Linked DNA regions of Homo sapiens: regions 2, 3 and 4 are each reported to be linked to region 1. The links are microRNA targets in miRTarBase. Many come from high-throughput screens and were not tested one by one. Region 1 holds a microRNA gene; each other region holds the end of a gene's coding sequence.
Evidence for each region. Region 1 holds the annotated microRNA hsa-miR-5189-3p (UGCCAACCGUCAGAGCCCAGA, at 2,185-2,205, opposite strand). A microRNA usually pairs through its seed, bases 2 to 8, with sites in the 3' UTR of a target mRNA and lowers its output. Matches are read on the target gene's strand: a 7mer-m8 pairs with bases 2 to 8, a 7mer-A1 pairs with bases 2 to 7 and ends in A, and an 8mer does both.

Region 1 (3,134 bases):
CGGTCAGGGCGGAGTAAGTGGAGAGGAAAAGTCTGGTCTATCTATCATGGCTGCAGGGGAGCTGGGCTTTCCTCCTCCCGGCCCCCTCGCTCCTTCAGAAGGCAGCCTCTGGGCAGCCCAGTATGTAGTTGGCAAGGGCACACGGGGAAGGGAATGCCTGTCGCGGAGGCTGGACCCCACCGGGTGAGGTACTGGCATCTGAGCTGGGCCCTGGGTCAGTGCGTCACGCTGCGTCTCCCGCCCCTTCCTGGACGACCTCATCCCCTGCTCGGAGCTCCCACTGTGCGCTCGGCGAGGATGTGTTTCCCTATGCCACATCCTCACCTGTCACTCAGCGTCACCACCCGGCCCTCCACACCGTGCCACATCCTCACCTGTCACTCAGCGTCACCACCCGGCCCTCCACACCGTGCCACATCCTCACGTGTCACTCAGCGTCACCACCCGGCCCTCCACACCGTGCCACATCCTCACCTGTCACTCAGCGTCACCACCCGGCCCTCCACACCGTGCCACATCCTCACCTGTCACTCAGCGTCACCACCCGGCCCTCCACACCGTGCCACATCCTCACCTGTCACTCAGCGTCACCACCCGGCCCTCCACACCGTGCCACATCCTCACCTGTCACTCAGCGTCACCACCCGGCCCTCCACACCGTGCCACATCCTCACCTGTCACTGAGTGTCACCACCCGGCCCTCCACACCACCAGTCCCCCAACAACAGCCTCCCCAGTGGTTCTGCCACAGAGCACGTCAGACCCCTGTGTTCACTCTCCCTCGTTAGGCTGGGGTTCCATGAGGTCACCTGGGGTCCCTGGACCATGCCCAGCACACAGCAGGCACTCAGTACAGGTTTGGAGAGTACAGGGGACACCCGTGGGCATCCAGAGGCTGCCCGCCCCAACCCGTCCAGCAGCCCTGTCCCCAGGACAGGTGGGGTGGCCCTGACAGCAAGGACCCCGCAGGAGTGAGTCACAGCCCCAGCACAGGGACAAGGACCGTGGCTCTCCACAGGCGATGCTCCTACACGGGAGGGGCCTTTGCCCAGGACAATGCTGGCTCTGGAGGCCCTGGCTTTTTCTCCGTTTCCTTTTTCCTTCTGCTTGCTTTGCCTCTGGGGACACAGCCAGGCACAGGGAGCAGATCCAGAAATCAGCTGGGGAGTATTTATGGAGCACCTACTGTATGCCCCAAGCTGTCCTGGGAGAGGACAGAGCTGCCTGCATGTGTGGAGACCCCTCTGCAGACTGGGAGGGCTGCGTGGGGAGATCCTCTGGGCTGGGCACGCACCTCTGACCCTCACCACGTGAGAGGCACTGCACCCCACGTTAGGGGGTGGGGCCCTGGCCAAGGTGATGTCTGGTTCTGGTCGGACGGCCCCTCCCTACTTCCTCTCCTTAGATCTCAGCCCAGACTCTTTCTCTCCTCGCCCCGCCACTATTTTCCACTTACACATTTTTGACAAACACCCACACCTGTGGCTGATTTTCAGGTGCCGTGGGAGCTGACAGGGCCTCCAGCCAGGTCTCAGGCCGGCGGAGCCTGCCTCATCCTGGTCTTGCCAGCAAGACCCACTGTGCAGTGTGGGTGGATGCAGAACACAGGTGCATGCCCCCTAAGGTGTCCTAAGCCCCCTGTAGACATGGTCTCCTGGCACATGAATTTCTGACAATGGGAAATCTGGAAGACCCCAGGTTTCCAGGCTATGCCACAGCCACAGACAGGAGGACCCCCAGAGAACCTGCCACCTCAGCCTCATGGTGTGGAAGGGGAAACTGAGGCCCAGGCCGGCAAGGGGCTTGCTGAAGAGCCCAGAAACCATCCTGGGAGGCAGACCTACTAGACCGCCTTCCGGTTTTACAGATGGGGAGGCTGAGGGTGGGCAAAGGGGTTGGGACTGTCATTCATTAAGATGGTGCCACGTCCCTGGCCCGGCCGGCACTTCAGAAGCTTGGCAGAATGAGGTTCCGGATGGAAGTCAGCGCGGGGAGAGGGTGGAGCGGTGGGGGGCAGCCTGCAGGAGGGTCTGGAGTGGGCCCAGACATGGGGGTGGGAGGCTGGCTGGCCCCAGGGCCGTCCCTGCCGGGTTGTGAAACTCGCTGTTCCCATCTGGGAGTGGCTGCTGGCTGCACTCCTCTCGGGAACTCCTGGGTCCTGGTCCCCAACTGAGGCCACGTGGGTCTGGGCTCTGACGGTTGGCAGGTCATCCAGAGGCCAGCCTGTCCATCCGCCTGTGCCCAGACAGCGAGGCCCCTAAAAGGCGGGCCCTTCCAGAGCCGGTGGTGGTGGTGGCAGAGGTCTCCCGTCCTGGGGCAGGGTCCAGGATGGGAACTACTCCCCCAGGTCAAGGGCAGCCCCTGGAGGAGGCCCTGCCCCCACACAGCAGCTCAGCCAATCCCTGGGCCTCACCCCTGCTCATTTGCATACCCCATTTCCATTGGCTGCCAACAGGCTGGTTAGGACAGTGGTGCCCTGGCCATGGGGGTGGGGCTCTGGGGGGCGGGGCCCTGGGGGTATCAGATTCTGGGTGACTGGTCCCAGCCCCAAGTCTAGGGTCAGAAAGCTGCATGGGGCTGGTGGGGGGCTTCAGTTACAGTGCAGGCTCTCCCCTTTCCTCGAAGGCTCCCTGACATCCATTCAGGGATGACTCTGAGTGGGAAAGATACTGGTCCAAGGTCGTACAGCCAAGAGGCCGGCACAGCTGGGACCTGGCCCCAAGTCCCAACCCCTCTCCAAGGCCGGCCTCTTTTCTCCTGTGGGGGCCTGTTGAGAGCGACTTCTTATTTTTGGCTGCCTTGTTTCAGGGAGGGCTATTTGGGGGCTTTCTTTGCAAAATGATGATGATGATGACTTTCAGAGCACCCCGAGTGCTCAGCTCTCCCTCTAGATCTGGTGGCTCTGTGCGCCGCAGGCAGTGGGCTCGCGGGTGCGTCGGGACGGTGGGCTCGCGGGTGCTTGAGGGGCGGTGGGCTCGCGGGTGCTTGAGGGGCGGTGGGCTCGCGGGTGCGTCAGGGCCTGTGGGCTCGCGGGTGGGTCAGGGGCAGTGGGCTCGCGGGTGCGTGAGGGGCGGTGGGCTCGCAGGTGCGTCAGCGGCCGGTGGGCTCGCGGGTGGGTCGGGGCGGTGGGCTCG
Region 2 (3,134 bases), not on the chromosome of region 1:
ATTCACAGGCAGCCAGGGATCCTCTTGGTCCGTGAGGTTGGGGGCTTGCATCAGAATGCAAATCTACCGAGGCGTGAAGCACAATTTAGTTCAACTGACATTTTTTCCTTCACAGTAAGACCTTCTGGAGGAAGGAAGCAGTGTGTTGATTTATACCTTAGCCCAAGCTCCTTATTTCACTATCAAGCTACAAGTCCAGTAGAACTGATCTGTTACATCCCAATCACCACCCAGCAAAGACACTCTTGTTAAAAAGCTCCTTAACAAAGGGAAGATTTTCACTTAATTCACTCTTCTCTTAGTACCTGTCACCTTATTTGTCCTCTAAATTCAGAACCTGCTAGAAGACATAGGGTTTGAATCTGGCTTCGGGTCGAATGATGTTGCTGAATGCAGGGTTAGAAGTCTGTAGGGACGACACAGTCTCTGTGCTGCTTTCAGTTACTTTCTGTATTCAGTTGTTCATGTTGCTTGCGCATGCTTCAAAGCTTAAACCATTAGTTTAGGGATATGCACAGATACTGATGACTTCACATCACGATTTCCAAACACAAACTGCCATAGGGTCGAGCTAAAATAAAATTTGAGGCCAGGCACGGGGGCTCACGCCTATAATCCCGGTGTTTGGGAGGCCAAGGTAAGAGGATCACTTGAGGCCAGCCTGTATAACATACGGAGATCTTGTCTCTACTGCTTGTGGTCCTAGCTATCCGCGAGGCTGAGGCAAAAGGACCGCTTCAGTCCAGGAATTTGATGCTGCGGTAACTATGATCGTGCCACTGCACTCTGGCCTGGGTGACAGAGTGAGCCTGTCTCTCTCTTAAAAAGTAAATAAATAGTATCTGAAAGTGCCACAAATGGGGCGTTTTGCCCAGGAGAGGCATCACCAGCACCTGTGCCCATCTGCCCAACGTGACCACTCTGAAGAGGACGGTGACTGCTGGACAGATGAGTTTTGGACATATATAACCTCTCAATGTCTATTCTGTATTCACATCTTAGTGACTTTTTTCAACAATCAAAGGTAAGATTTAAATTGAGTCTGTAGCATTTGAGAGAGAAAAGCAAAATTGAAGGGCTGAGAAAACAATAAACATTTGGGTATCTGCAATACATGCTGTTATCTAGGGACATTTCTGCTTCCTCCCAGAATCAGTTTTCCATACTTAGTGAGTGGGGTGTGTTTGTTTCTCCCACTAGACGGATGTTAATTCTTTGCAGGCAGTAACTATATTTTCTTCATGTTTACATCTCCAAATCCTTGCAAGCAAGTAGCACCTATTAACAGTCAAATAACTACTGTTTGGTGACCTCAGAGTTGTTTAAGATGGTACATTTACAATCTGGAATTGGTGAGGAGATGAATATCCTCAACTGTGTGAGAATGTTACATGAATGATGAAAAGCACCTGTCTGCATTACAGTGTACATAAGGCCATATCCACAGGGCTTATGTCGACTGACTTTGCCAAAGTTAATTGCAACCTAAATACTTAAAACAGTATCAAGAATCACATTTAAGCTGGGCGTGGTGGCTCAAGCCTGTAATCCCAGCACTTTGGGAGGCCGAGATGGGTGTATCACCTGAGGTCAGGAGTTCAAGACCAGCCTTGCCAACATGGTGAAACCCATCTCTACTAAAATACAAAAATTAGCCGGGCGTGGTGGCGTGCGCCTGTAGTCCCAGCTAAAGAGGCTGAGGCAGGAGAATCGCTTGAACCCGGGAGGTAGAGGTTGCAGTGAGCTGAGATTACAGGACACTGCACTCCACTCTGGGTGACAGAGCAAGACTCTGTCTCAAAAAAACAATCACCTTTAAGGGATGGTTTTTGAACTTCTAACCAATATTTTAAAAAGGTAAAAACCTCATCAATTTCTTTATAACTGCACCCTCTAGTGGCCTGTTTTATCTATTAATTTTTTTTTTTTTTTTGACAGTCTCACTGTCAAAAGTCTCACTGTCCAGCCCAGGCTGGAGTACAGTGGTACAATCTTGGCTCACTGCAGCCTCTACCTCCAGGGTCCAAGCAATTCTTGTGCCTCAGCCACCTCAGTAGCTGCTATTACCAGCATGTGCCATCATGCCTGGCTAATTTTTATATTTTTAGTAGAGACAGGGTTTTGCCCAGGCTGGTTTCAAATTCCTGGCCTCAAGTGATCCGCCCACCTTGGCCTCACAAAGTGCTGGGATTACAGGGGTGAGCCATCACGCTCGGCCATATCTATTAAAAAATTTTAAGACAATCATACACACCAGCCTCACTGCTTAGAGAACCCTGTCCAGTGTGCCTGACCCCTTTTCCCTCCCTCCTTCTCCTCTCACCCCCAAGATAGTTATTTGAAAATGGCTTGAAATACAAACAATAAAACCTTAGATCAAAAAAAATCTCAAAATATAATACATTAACAGACAATGATATAGCTCTACCAAACATTCACACGCAGGCAACAGAATAAGCCTTTGGGTTTACCAAGGACATTTTACAGTCAAAGGGCCACCTGCCCTCCTTCCTTCCCTGACTACATTCTCAGGGAAGCTTTTCCTTGCAGACACTTCGTTGCAAGGTCAGCTTTCTCTCTCAGCACGTTGGCTTCGTCGGCGCTTCTGTGGGCCTGTGCGTTCTTTAGCAAGAAGTGGCTGATGAAAAGCTTCAAACCCTCACGTAACACCCCCAGCTTTGGGTTGTCAGATACTCTGGAAAGGAATCGTATAAACACATGTCAGGGCTGAGCTGGCCTCTCCTAGATCTCAATCCTGGGTATCTCGCATAGTGAGACATAACCAGTTTCTTTTAAAAATAAAATTCTCAATTAAGAACTTCTTAACATATTTTATTATTAACAATCATTGTTAGTTTGCTAGCAGACAAGTTTCTATTCCCCAGATCTAATGCATACCAGCTTAAAAATAAAACCGAAAAGATTAAGCTACACGTATAGTACAACCTTGTGTTTGTAAATCAACACAAGTGAAAACAATCTCTTCATTTCTCTTCCATGTCTCGTCGGAAAGGGTGGGGCACATACCTTGTGAAAATTAAACTGAGGTCTTCAACTTCTGTTTCCATTAATAGGATACTTAATACTTTTCGTAAAAAACGGACTCTGGGTTTGTCCAATTCACTGAATTCAAC
Region 3 (3,134 bases), not on the chromosome of region 1:
GTATTTCAATTATGCCATGTAAGTAAACAATTTGCTGTGAACTGTCCTGTGTATCTAATCATTTAATACATTGCTTCTATAAGAAAATACTATTTGTTAAATTTTAGTCATAATTTCATTGTTTCTCATCATAGACTGCAGATGCAAACATTTAATGGTGAACAAAATGTTTATCTCAATTTTTCTTTGACATTTTTATGCTTTGAAAATTCAGAATGGATAAAAACAAATGAAGTACAAAATATTTCAGATTTACATAGTGATAAACAAGAAAGCACTTATCAGGAGGACTTACAAATGGAAGTACACTCTAGAACCATCATCTATCATGGCTAAATGTGAGATTAGCACAGCTGTATTATTTGTACATTGCAAACACCTAGAAAGAGATGGGAAACAAAATCCCAGGAGTTTTGTGTGTGGAGTCCTGGGTTTTCCAACAGACATCATTCCAGCATTCTGAGATTAGGGTGATTGGGGATCATTCTGGAGTTGGAATGTTCAACAAAAGTGATGTTGTTAGGTAAAATGTACAACTTCTGGATCTATGCAGACATTGAAGGTGCAATGAGTCTGGCTTTTACTCTGCTGTTTCTTTCACACTTTAGATTTTAAAAGTACGTCTCAAGGAATCTTTCTTTCCAATTTGAGAACTCAACTCACTTTAAAATGGAAACACGCAACAAAAAACAGATGCTGCTTTCTAGAACTCCATTGTCATGAAATATAATATTTGCTAAAATAAGAGATTTACTTTAAAAATTAGAGTGCTTATTTCTTGCAAAGTACACCATGGAAAACCCTCGGGGGAAAATTGTTGCCAAATGTATCCATTAACTGTATTTAAAATTTCTGATTGCCTTTTTGACCATGTTATTGCTAAATAGCAAAACAAACAAAAACAAAAACAACAAAAATCCTATATCCCAGCTAGATTTCTTCCTTTAGCATATGGTAGTGTCTTCGATATTTTGTACAATGTGTAGTATTTTAAATAGTAAAGAAGTGACCATGCATCAAGCTGAAGGTAGTGACTAATGCTCAAGAGCTAGCTCTTTAAAACTATAAATATGGTTACTATGAGTATATCCACTAATGTCTCATAAGACACTCTTAATGATATCCTATCAGCCCTGAAAAAATGGCTGCTGCTATGCAACTCCAAAGAGTTACATAGTTACGTATAGTGAATGGACAACACAAATAGGTGGGTTTTTTTTGTTTTTTAATAATATGAATTTAAAATAGCCACAAACAGGGTGAGTGCATGTAAGCGGCTGAACTGCCAGTACAGGGGAAGGTAAATGGGCCTAAACTATGATACCTAGCAAGGGTTGGATCTGTGCAGGCTTCTATGTACAGAGACAAGCAGGGTTAGGCACTTAAAGCTTTTTGATGAAAATCCTGGGAAAGAGCTGAGCCTACATTTATTATTATTACTATCAAAACAACAACATACTTTTCATGAAGAAACATGCAATCAGAAACATTACAGAGACTGAAGAGAGCTTAAGAGTTTTCTGAAAATGAAATGACATGTTTTTCCAGAGTATCATCTCAATTATAAAATTTGATGGTTTTATATTATCATATTTCTTCAGTGGTAAATACCTCATTAAAAAATTATTAAAAAATTATTGACAATACAAAGCCCTAGTTAGTATACAGATATTACTATACTGGTACCCATCTTGTAAGGAAAATATCACCATCTAGATATCTTAAATATCTTCTATCATCCAATATCTTAAACCAATTTCTTAAATTGTTTTATTCAAAGGTACTTTTGTCGTCTTGCCCCTATTCTTCTATCATCAATAGTCCTTTTAAAAATTATAATATTCTACATATACAAAATAAAAATCTAATGTCATAAAAATCTCAAAAATGTAATGTTAGTAGTGTTGATTATCTAAAGAACTCAGCTTCATGGAATACCTTTCAATATTTATTGCCCAGATGTATTAAAGAGAATTCTTAAATGTAATGCATCAATGGTCCTAATACATCTGTAAACAGAATACCACTAAAAAAATTTTACTGGCATGAAATACTATACTTATGGTTGTGTGAAACTTTTAAATCTTAAAGCCTCTTAACATAATCATGTGTATCTATGTACAAAACATACATAAATTTCACTTTATTTAAAACATATGAAAGAGGTAATTTCAAACCACACTAAACATAATAAATATAGAACTCGCTTTGTTAAAAATCTACAGTATACATTCAAGTAAAGGCTAAACTTCCAATGCCAACTATATTTGAGACAAAATTAAACATTTACAATAATCAGTTTCCTAAAAGTGCTATTTTTAATACCTATAAGAGGAAACTCAGTCTAGTGCTTTTGTTTCCATCCAAACATCTATACATTCCTTTATTCACAGAACCAGATGCTTCTGTTACTAAAAATACATATCCAAAGCTTTTATATCCTTTTAAATAGATTTAAGATTTCAACTCTTTGGGGGAAGACAGGGAAGTCCAAACAAACAACTCAGACCATCTTAAGTTATTAGAGATAACTGACTTTATGACACACCCTGTTTCAACTTAGATGTGAAACTTGATGAACACATTAATGAAAAAAATTCCAGTCCACATGTCTAAGGTAAGTCATCTTTTTCTACATGAGAATTTGTGTAGCTCAAGGAGCATCCACTATAGCAACCTTCCTGTGATCCAGGTCTTGATGCCACACTCCATTTTTGATTTGTACATTCTCCTCCAACCTGATTTGGTTTAATTTCTTCAGCAGTTATATTCAGTACATTGATTGAACTGTTGGGAAAAGAAAGGCAGATCTTAGTGACTATCCTCTCCTTCTTTTGTACTTTAACCTCATAATGTGGCACTCTTCAAAAAAAATAAGTTCCTTTTAATTCTAAAAATCTAGGCCAAAAATATAATTTAAAATTTTACTTGGAAAAAAAAAACGGCTGGGAGCAGTAGCTCACACTTGTAATCCTAGCACTTTGGGAGGCTGAGGCAGCCGAACTGCTTGAGCCCAGGAATTCAGGACTAGCCTGAGTAACATGGTGAAACCCTGTCTCTACAAAAAATTAGCTGGGAGTAGTAGTGCATGCCTAGTTTAATCATTTGTACAAGGGATTCTGATGACCAAATTA
Region 4 (3,134 bases), not on the chromosome of region 1:
ATGACAAGTTCTTCTCCCTTCTTCTGCATGTGCAGGGCATTGGTTGCTATATGTTCCGAATTGATGACTCAGAGGTAGTGGATGCCACCATGCATGGAAATGCTGCACGCTTCATCAATCACTCGTGTGAGCCTAACTGCTATTCTCGGGTCATCAATATTGATGGGCAGAAGCACATTGTCATCTTTGCCATGCGTAAGATCTACCGAGGAGAGGAACTCACTTACGACTATAAGTTCCCCATTGAGGATGCCAGCAACAAGCTGCCCTGCAACTGTGGCGCCAAGAAATGCCGGAAGTTCCTAAACTAAAGCTGCTCTTCTCCCCCAGTGTTGGAGTGCAAGGAGGCGGGGCCATCCAAAGCAACGCTGAAGGCCTTTTCCAGCAGCTGGGAGCTCCCGGATTGCGTGGCACAGCTGAGGGGCCTCTGTGATGGCTGAGCTCTCTTATGTCCTATACTCACATCAGACATGTGATCATAGTCCCAGAGACAGAGTTGAGGTCTCGAAGAAAAGATCCATGATCGGCTTTCTCCTGGGGCCCCTCCAATTGTTTACTGTTAGAAAGTGGGAATGGGGTCCCTAGCAGACTTGCCTGGAAGGAGCCTATTATAGAGGGTTGGTTATGTTGGGAGATTGGGCCTGAATTTCTCCACAGAAATAAGTTGCCATCCTCAGGTTGGCCCTTTCCCAAGCACTGTAAGTGAGTGGGTCAGGCAAAGCCCCAAATGGAGGGTTGGTTAGATTCCTGACAGTTTGCCAGCCAGGCCCCACCTACAGCGTCTGTCGAACAAACAGAGGTCTGGTGGTTTTCCCTACTATCCTCCCACTCGAGAGTTCACTTCTGGTTGGGAGACAGGATTCCTAGCACCTCCGGTGTCAAAAGGCTGTCATGGGGTTGTGCCAATTAATTACCAAACATTGAGCCTGCAGGCTTTGAGTGGGAGTGTTGCCCCCAGGAGCCTTATCTCAGCCAATTACCTTTCTTGACAGTAGGAGCGGCTTCCCTCTCCCATTCCCTCTTCACTCCCTTTTCTTCCTTTCCCCTGTCTTCATGCCACTGCTTTCCCATGCTTCTTTCGGGTTGTAGGGGAGACTGACTGCCTGCTCAAGGACACTCCCTGCTGGGCATAGGATGTGCCTGCAAAAAGTTCCCTGAGCCTGTAAGCACTCCAGGTGGGGAAGTGGACAGGAGCCATTGGTCATAACCAGACAGAATTTGGAAACATTTTCATAAAGCTCCATGGAGAGTTTTAAAGAAACATATGTAGCATGATTTTGTAGGAGAGGAAAAAGATTATTTAAATAGGATTTAAATCATGCAACAACGAGAGTATCACAGCCAGGATGACCCTTGGGTCCCATTCCTAAGACATGGTTACTTTATTTTCCCCTTGTTAAGACATAGGAAGACTTAATTTTTAAACGGTCAGTGTCCAGTTGAAGGCAGAACACTAATCAGATTTCAAGGCCCACAACTTGGGGACTAGACCACCTTATGTTGAGGGAACTCTGCCACCTGCGTGCAACCCACAGCTAAAGTAAATTCAATGACACTACTGCCCTGATTACTCCTTAGGATGTGGTCAAAACAGCATCAAATGTTTCTTCTCTTCCTTTCCCCAAGACAGAGTCCTGAACCTGTTAAATTAAGTCATTGGATTTTACTCTGTTCTGTTTACAGTTTACTATTTAAGGTTTTATAAATGTAAATATATTTTGTATATTTTTCTATGAGAAGCACTTCATAGGGAGAAGCACTTATGACAAGGCTATTTTTTAAACCGCGGTATTATCCTAATTTAAAAGAAGATCGGTTTTTAATAATTTTTTATTTTCATAGGATGAAGTTAGAGAAAATATTCAGCTGTACACACAAAGTCTGGTTTTTCCTGCCCAACTTCCCCCTGGAAGGTGTACTTTTTGTTGTTTAATGTGTAGCTTGTTTGTGCCCTGTTGACATAAATGTTTCCTGGGTTTGCTCTTTGACAATAAATGGAGAAGGAAGGTCACCCAACTCCATTGGGCCACTCCCCTCCTTCCCCTATTGAAGCTCCTCAAAAGGCTACAGTAATATCTTGATACAACAGATTCTCTTCTTTCCCGCCTCTCTCCTTTCCGGCGCAACTTCCAGAGTGGTGGGAGACGGCAATCTTTACATTTCCCTCATCTTTCTTACTTCAGAGTTAGCAAACAACAAGTTGAATGGCAACTTGACATTTTTGCATCACCATCTGCCTCATAGGCCACTCTTTCCTTTCCCTCTGCCCACCAAGTCCTCATATCTGCAGAGAACCCATTGATCACCTTGTGCCCTCTTTTGGGGCAGCCTGTTGAAACTGAAGCACAGTCTGACCACTCACGATAAAGCAGATTTTTCTCTGCCTCTGCCACAAGGTTTCAGAGTAGTGTAGTCCAAGTAGAGGGTGGGGCACCCTTTTCTCGCCGCAAGAAGCCCATTCCTATGGAAGTCTAGCAAAGCAATACGACTCAGCCCAGCACTCTCTGCCCCAGGACTCATGGCTCTGCTGTGCCTTCCATCCTGGGCTCCCTTCTCTCCTGTGACCTTAAGAACTTTGTCTGGTGGCTTTGCTGGAACATTGTCACTGTTTTCACTGTCATGCAGGGAGCCCAGCACTGTGGCCAGGATGGCAGAGACTTCCTTGTCATCATGGAGAAGTGCCAGCAGGGGACTGGGAAAAGCACTCTACCCAGACCTCACCTCCCTTCCTCCTTTTGCCCATGAACAAGATGCAGTGGCCCTAGGGGTTCCACTAGTGTCTGCTTTCCTTTATTATTGCACTGTGTGAGGTTTTTTTGTAAATCCTTGTATTCCTATTTTTTTTAAAGAAAAAAAAAAAACCTTAAGCTGCATTTGTTACTGAAATGATTAATGCACTGATGGGTCCTGAATTCACCTTGAGAAAGACCCAAAGGCCAGTCAGGGGGTGGGGGGAACTCAGCTAAATAGACCTAGTTACTGCCCTGCTAGGCCATGCTGTACTGTGAGCCCCTCCTCACTCTCTACCAACCCTAAACCCTGAGGACAGGGGAGGAACCCACAGCTTCCTTCTCCTGCCAGCTGCAGATGGTTTGCCTTGCCTTTCCACCCCCTAATTGTCAACCACAAAAATG

Region 2: miRTarBase lists NOM1 as a target of hsa-miR-5189-3p. Seed matches in the 3' UTR shown: 7mer-A1 at 1,612-1,618.
Region 3: the mRNA of SSX2IP is a reported target of hsa-miR-5189-3p. Seed matches in the 3' UTR shown: 7mer-A1 at 2,256-2,262.
Region 4: miRTarBase lists KMT2A as a target of hsa-miR-5189-3p. Seed matches in the 3' UTR shown: 7mer-m8 at 677-683.

What each region holds. Positions count from the first base shown.
Region 1 is chr16:88,468,055-88,471,188 of GRCh38, reverse strand. MIR5189 (microRNA 5189) reads right to left here and starts at 2,271; the gene lies at 2,158-2,271. All of the region lies in intron 1 of ZFPM1 (zinc finger protein, FOG family member 1), which reads right to left.
Region 2 is chr7:156,969,090-156,972,223 of GRCh38, reverse strand. It overlaps NOM1 (nucleolar protein with MIF4G domain 1), which reads right to left. Exons shown (of 11, transcript NM_138400.2): 10 at 3,028-3,134; 11 at 1-2,695. The coding sequence ends at 2,521. Among named protein-coding and RNA genes, the nearest start is that of NOM1, 21 kb to the right of the region's middle.
Region 3 is chr1:84,644,821-84,647,954 of GRCh38, forward strand. SSX2IP (SSX family member 2 interacting protein) reads right to left here. Exons shown (of 14, transcript NM_001166293.2): 14 at 1-2,787. The coding sequence ends at 2,613. Among named protein-coding and RNA genes, the nearest start is that of LINC01555, 11 kb to the left of the region's middle.
Region 4 is chr11:118,521,862-118,524,995 of GRCh38, forward strand. It overlaps KMT2A (lysine methyltransferase 2A), which reads left to right. Exons shown (of 36, transcript NM_001197104.2): 36 at 36-3,134. The coding sequence ends at 311. All of the region lies in intron 1 of TTC36-AS1 (TTC36 and KMT2A antisense RNA 1), which reads right to left. Among named protein-coding and RNA genes, the nearest start is that of TTC36, 4.0 kb to the right of the region's middle.